Linked DNA regions of Homo sapiens. The protein of the gene in region 1 interacts with the protein of each later gene in a pairwise test. Each region holds a gene or a part of one and is shown on either strand. Other genes may lie near its edges. The genes, in order: TSACC and FOXP2.

Region 1 (2,985 bases):
CAGAACCAAACCATGAGCCAAAATAAACATATTTTCTCTACAAATCACCCAACTTTAGGTATTTCTTTATAGCAATGCAAGAATGGACTAATACGTCTACCTCTAGGTCTTTGTCCAAGCTTCCCAACTGATATGGAACTACCTGACTTCATCTGTCCATGCCATCCAACCCCTCCCTTCTTCAAGTGGCATCATGAAGCCACTTTCTCCAGCAAGATTCTAAAATTGGTCCAGTTGTATCCTAGTAACCTCCAGTGTTAGTTCTTAACCTCCATCCTCTTTCAGAATACCACTACATTTTGCAATGAATTGTCTGCTTTGTTAGACAGTAATCCCTGCAAACTCCTTTTGTAATATGTAACCCCAAGTGCCTTGTACAACGCTTTGCACTCAGTGAGCACTTATTATGAACCTGTGAACAAACTAACCATATGTAGAATACATATACCCAGATTCCAACAAGGGTTTACTGGGAAGAGAGAGGAAAACAACACAATAACTTTGTTCCACAATTCATTTACTGAATTGGGGCAGGTGATTTAACAATGGATTAGGAGATAAGGCTGGGAGAGAAGAGTTATTGCTTCCCCTCCCAGGAGCCAGTTGTGTCACAGATGCCTGTAAATGTTCCAAAACAGCCATCTGTTGTTGGGCGAGCTGGGTCTGAAGCTGGAGGTTTGCATACATACATTCCAGGAGTCCTAGGCATTCCTTGGGCTTGTGATCAACTCCAGAAGGAAAAGCAACGGAGGTGCAAGGGAACAAAGGAGAGAGATTTGGTAATTGTACTGAGGTTGGAAGGACCCTAATAAAATGACCTCTCCAATCTTTCCAGGCACAACCCAACCCAGACATACCTTTGCCCAGCTGTCACCTCCCAGTGAGGCATACCTGGCTATCCTATTTTAATTTGAAATCAATCACTGGAACTTATTACCCCCTCCCTTGTTTCACTTTTCCCATAATATTTATGGTCATATGGCATATTTTATAATTACTTAATTTTTGTCTAAGTCCCCCTTCTAGAACGTAAGCTCCAGGAAGGCAAGGATTTTTATCTGATTTGTTCACTACTTTAACCCTAGCACCTAGAAAAATGCCCAGCATATAACAAATATTTGATGAGTGAATGAAATGGTCTGGGAGGGAGGCCTACCTTCCCTAGAGCTCAGGGGATACCTCAGCCTCCTCTGTTACTTGACATAGTGTATCATTAGCAGTGACCTGAAGTTCCCTAACTTCAACCATTCTTGCTACATTGGTCCATTGTTTTTTTTCTTTTTCTTTTTTTTTTTTTTTTTTGGAGACGGAGTTTCACTTGTCACCCAGGCTAGAGTACAATGGTACGATCTCAGCTCACTGCAACCTCCACCTCCTGGGTTCAAGCAATTCTCCTGCCTCAACTTCCTGAGTAGCTGGGATTACAGTCATGTGCCACCATGCCTGGCTAAGTTTTGTATCATTAGTAGAGACGAGGTTTCACCACGTTGCCCAGGCTGGTCTCGAACTCCTGACCTCAGGTGATCCACCTGCCTTGGCCTTCCAAAGTGCTGGTATTACAAGTGTGAGCCACTGCACCTGGCCAGTCCATTCTTTTTCTAATATTTTTCTTTTTTCTTTTTTTTTTTTTCAATGGAGCCTTGCTCTGTCTCCCAGGATGCAGTGCAGCGGCACAATCCTGGCTCACTGCAACCTCCACCTCCCAGTTTAAGCAATTCTCCTGCCTCAGTCTCCCAAGTAGCTGGGATTACAGGCAGGTGCCACCATGCCCAGCTAATTTTTGTATTTTTAGTAGAGATGGGGTTTCACCATGTTGGTGAGGCTGGTCTCAAACTCCTGACCTCAGGTAATCCGCCCGCTTTGGCCTCCCAAAGTGCTGGGATTACAGGCATGAGCCACCGAGCCCTGCCAGTCCATTCTTTTGTTTGTTTTGAGATGGAGTTTCACTCTTGTTGCCCAGGCTGGAGTGCAATGGCCCAGTCTTGGCTCACTGCAACCTCCGCCTCCCAGGTTCAAGCAATTCTCCTGCCTCGGCCTCCTAAGCAGCTGAGATTACAGGCACCTGCCACCACGCCCAGCTTATTTTTGTATTTTTAGTAGAGACAGGGTTTCACCATGTCGGTCAGGCTGGTCTGAAGCTCCTGACCTCAGACAATCCACCTGCCTTGGCCTCCCAAAGTGCTGGGATTACAGGGATGAGCTACCGTGCCCAGCCACTTTTTCTAATATTTTACACAGCCAGTTAACCTTGGTAATTATATTATCTGCTGTTTGTATTTTTATCAGTCTTGACTTCTTTGTTGGACTCTGAGGTCCTCAAAAACAGGGGTTATGACTGTCTAGTTAGTGCCCTGTTGGGTTCCCCATAGCTATGCCAAATACCCACTGACCTCCCCAAGGGAAGATGAATGATGAAAATTCAAAGACCCTGAGACTGAGCTAATAGTTTCCTTCTCTAGCCACCGTTTTTTAAAATTTTACCTTCCCAAGTGAACAGGGGTAAACCTGGCCATCTTTTAACTAACATTACCAGTAAGCAATGAGAGGTTCACTTCACTCCTGCCTAGTCTAGCAAAAGTGCTAACAAGCAAGGAAACAATACAAGTTGGTAGAACTGGGATGATAATGATATCAATGAAACTAAATAATCAACAAGCTATCACGGAAAGATCTATAGATGCCTAACATAGATTTGGCTCTTGATCAATAGGCGACAGCTCAAGCCACCTCCTCCATGCAACCCTTCCCCCTGTTGAGTCCATTAGAAAACCCTCCCTACATCCTTACCCGAGGGCAGCTTTGTTGTCTGGATGTTCAGAAAAGTGGCTGGTGGGGAACTTGCTTGAAGATTAATATAGCTGGGGGAGGGTTTTGCTCTACAGAGAGGCACAGCATTAGCTTCCTCTTTGGCTGGAACTAAATCAGAGATAACTAAATCAGAGCTCATTCCAACAAGGGACAGCCTTTCTAATTAGATCCCTGCAC
Region 2 (3,987 bases), on another chromosome or scaffold:
TGTTGGTGCCACCAACTGTAAATGACATAAGTTAGTTATTACAAAACACAGTAATTAGACTGTTGCAACCATCTAAAACCTTAGGCTTCCAGTCTGTGCTGTTAGTGTTAAGATGTAAAGTGCAATCCTAAGCTAACATTATCTGTGCAAGCACCATAGAAACATTTGCATATCTGCATAGATCTTACAACTGTACTCTTTACCTCCTTGTGATAAAGCTTTGTCTACCTGCAAACACAGTCAAAGGCTACAGCTGCAAACCAAAGCCAACTCTAACCATGGCCAAGAGCTCAAGGACAGAAGCAGCCACATGCTTTGGTCAGCCTTCTGTAACTTCAATTAGTACAAAGGAACCTTTTCCATGAACTACCTGCTGTTTTCTGATGACCTCTGGGATCTTTTCATTTAGCCCTAAACAAAGAAACAAATATGACAAAAACCACAACTAAAAAATGTTAATTCAGTCACAGAGTAATCTTCTGAGGCCAAAAGTCCATCTAAATGCAATGAAGATTTGCTTTCATTAAAGACAGAGGTGAGGACAAAATCCGCAGTGGAAGTTATGATATGCTAGAAAGCAACAAATGTGGATCACTGACCAAAACGATTATGTACTTGATGCAAATGCAGATTGCATATTGTTATATATATAGTACTTTGTGTTTTTGTTTTCCCTCATTCAGTCAGTTATTTTCAGTGGTGAATACATGTTGTTAGAAGATGTCTTGTATGGTCTTAATCTTTGTTGTGTACTATTTTTTTATAGTCTTAAGTTATAATGAAAAAACAAAAAGTAGGAACCAAACATAAAAGGTCTAGTAAAGCCAAAAATTAATTTCATATTGATTTTAAAGTGATCTAGCTGAGTTTTTACACTGAAAGCAAAGATTATAGCAATTGTAGTCCATGGTATTTATTTTCAGTCAAACCAAAGTTACATATAATTCTGCCTCTGCTTATACGGGATATTAACACTAACAATACACTCCCTTCAAAGACTTGCACAGGCCAAATTGTTGGAATGCTGGTTTTCTTGACAATTCCAAACCCCAAAACTATGATAATGAGTTATGATGTAGTTGAAAATAGCATAGTCAGATGTTTGCTTAAAACCTAGAAACTTAACATGTTGCTTTTCATGTGCTGTGCCAAGTCTTGATAATACTTTTTCCCCCAACCAAGGGACCTCATAACCTGATTATGGTTATTGCTTTACAAACAGTTTTGACAGAAGGTGGCTGCTAGAGCTTAACATACGTTCCCGTTCCATGTGATGGAACCGGTTCTTGCAAACTAAGCTCATCATTGATTCTTTGCTGAAGTCAGCAAATAGAGTTAGAGAGATACCCAGTCATCTATCACACCAAATAAAAGGACATAACGGCTTTCAAAAGGGTTTTCCCACTTACCCAAAAGGCTTTCTGAAAGCTTCTACCTCTGCAAAAAAAAAAAAAGAAAAAAAAAAAAAGAAAAACATTAGAACAATTATGGCAGATTGCATGAAACGTGAGAACGTCACAGTAACTGCTACTTTTCATTATGTTTGTCTTTGGGTCATGATCAACGAACCGGAAGTTTACAATATGGTATTAAAAGAAAGATGGGTATGGTGAAAGATGGTTTTCAGTCATCTAGGATCCTACTGTAAGGATTATCTGAAAGGAAAAATGGGTCTTTCAGGTGCATGTTCAAAAGGCTTTGAGGGACTGGAAGTAACTGCGAGAGTTGTACCATCAGAAGGGTGGCCTAAGACTACAATGCTAAAGTATGCATACCTCAGTTAGAAAACTTTTGAAAGGAAGTCTCAGCCACAGAATGCATATACCTGTAGAGTTTTGCATGGGTTTTATATGAATACAATTTTAAAAAATAGCTGCTTGCACATTATACCAGAAAAACCTCCAAAACTGCAATTGCTTTGAAAATAGATTTTAGGTTTTTTGGAGTTTCCTGAAATGCTTGGTCTGTATTTTGATAATTGTGCATATTATGTAAAAATGTTGGTGGACCCATAAATGACCAGACTTTTTCTAAGAAAAATGTTGCTTTAATGCATTTCATGAATTTTTACTCTTATATCATTGCTTGCTAGTAATAGCAAATCTGCTTTTCTGCATCTGCTTTGCGTAGCTATTGTAAGGCTTTGAACTAATGTATGTATTTATTGCTTGAACTTCTGTGCATACCTTATAAAGCATAATGTCTGACAATTTAAATGGCTCATGTATTCTTGCTTCTATCATAAGCTGATTATGGGGACTATGATCTTTTGTATACAGCAAATTTTAAACTGTAGCACAAACATCTGTTTATGTATTGGTGGAATATACCTGTTTTATTTATCTTTTTTGAGGTAAACTAATTTTTGATACTTTTCATTACTGTGTACTATGTTCATACTTTGAATTCTCTGACGTTAGAAGTCATGGTTGAGAATTGTAACAGCTGTTATTCGTTCTGTATTCATGGCTTTCACTGCTGAATAAAATAAAGGACCAAACCTAGGATTTGAAAGAAAACTGTCTACCTCTAACACCAGGGAGTTATCAGATTTTATTTTACATAGTTTTAGTCTACAAAGACACAATTGCTTAAACCTAGTGGGCTTAAGGCTTATATTCTATGTGGTTGGATTCGTGGCACAGTTGTACTATTTGAAAATCAATTAAAATTTTATGTGAATGTTACAAGTATTTGGTAGAATTACCACTAACTGGGTTTTCTTTAGATAACTCAGATATGGAGAAAATGTCATCAGCATTCTGTGTCTACAGCTGCTTAACTTCATAAGAATGCATTTCTTTGTGATTAGGGAATCGAAGAATAGTCAGCTAGGAATAGAGCTACAGAAGTACACTTACATAAACCATCCTGGACTTTAATGTCCCTGGGCAGATTCAGTCGCAAAATCCAATATGATATTTTGTAAAGTTTTCAAGTTGGACATTTACATTTTTGAGAATTTTGAGACTTCATCTTACACATGCCAGTATTAACACACATTTGGACAATAGCTTTATTAAGTCTATAAAGCTATTGAAAGGAACATGGCTTACCCTTGTTATTTCACTAGTTCAGGTTGCAACGAAAGGTTTTTTTGTCCATGAACACTTGGCATATCTTACTTAGCAAAAAAGAAGGATGTACATTTTACTATAGAATTAATGTATGAACAGTGTGTCACTGCTGTTGGATGTAAAAATGTATATGAAACCATTTCATTCACTTGATTACATTTCTGAAGTATAAATAAAAAAATCTAATTCTTTTTGACCCATTTATAACCAATAGGATTTTATTCTTTCGGAGAGACCATTCTTCCATGCCAGAGCCAAGTCATAAATTTGTATACACATGTCCCACAATTTGTTTAAAATTATTTTCTTAGGGATTTGGGATTCATAAACCAGACCATACTCAAATGTAAAGATGGAGGCTGCTTGTCAAATGCATTCCATTAAAAACTGTCTTCAGGTTCCAAATTGCTTCCCCACACACTTATCTCATGTTTTCGTGTTTTTATTCTGATACAATTTGACATTATAAATTCTGAACATTAAAAAATGCCAGGGGAAAACATGATTACTCTTTTTAACTTTATGACTTTTTTGCTTTATTGTCTTTTTTTGTTTTGCCTCTGAATATCAGTCACACCCACAGCATCCAGCCATGGTTTAGGGGAATGTGTCAGAGATAGGTAAGTAGCTTCCAAGAAAATGCTTTTTAGGATATTAGGGATCTGTTCCAGACCCATATTAGTGGAAAAAAACAGGCAAGATAGGGCCTCAGCATTAGAAAATTTCACTTCCTACTTTAACCTAACTTCCAAATCTCCTCACAATCAAAAGTAAAAGGAAAATGAATCTGTTGAGAATTTTTTAATTTTATGCATAACTTAATATTTTCTGTCATCCTAGTGAAAGGGTACCTTGAATAAAGGACTTTCCACAGGATTAAAAAATGGCTTTAAAAAGAAGTATGGACATG

What was found.
Region 2: the proteins of TSACC (region 1) and FOXP2 interact in binary tests that used the Homo sapiens proteins (3 or more experiments, as listed by UniProt).

What each region holds. Positions count from the first base shown.
Region 1 is NC_000001.11:156,344,511-156,347,495, reverse strand, and holds the end of TSACC (TSSK6-activating co-chaperone protein), read right to left. Parts: intron 2,917-2,985; coding exon 2,788-2,916; intron 729-2,787; coding exon 514-728; 3' UTR 501-513; downstream 1-500.
Region 2 is NC_000007.14:114,690,489-114,694,475, forward strand, and holds the end of FOXP2 (forkhead box protein P2), read left to right. Parts: 3' UTR 1-3,277; downstream 3,278-3,987. UniProt on the Homo sapiens protein: Transcriptional repressor that may play a role in the specification and differentiation of lung epithelium. May also play a role in developing neural, gastrointestinal and cardiovascular tissues.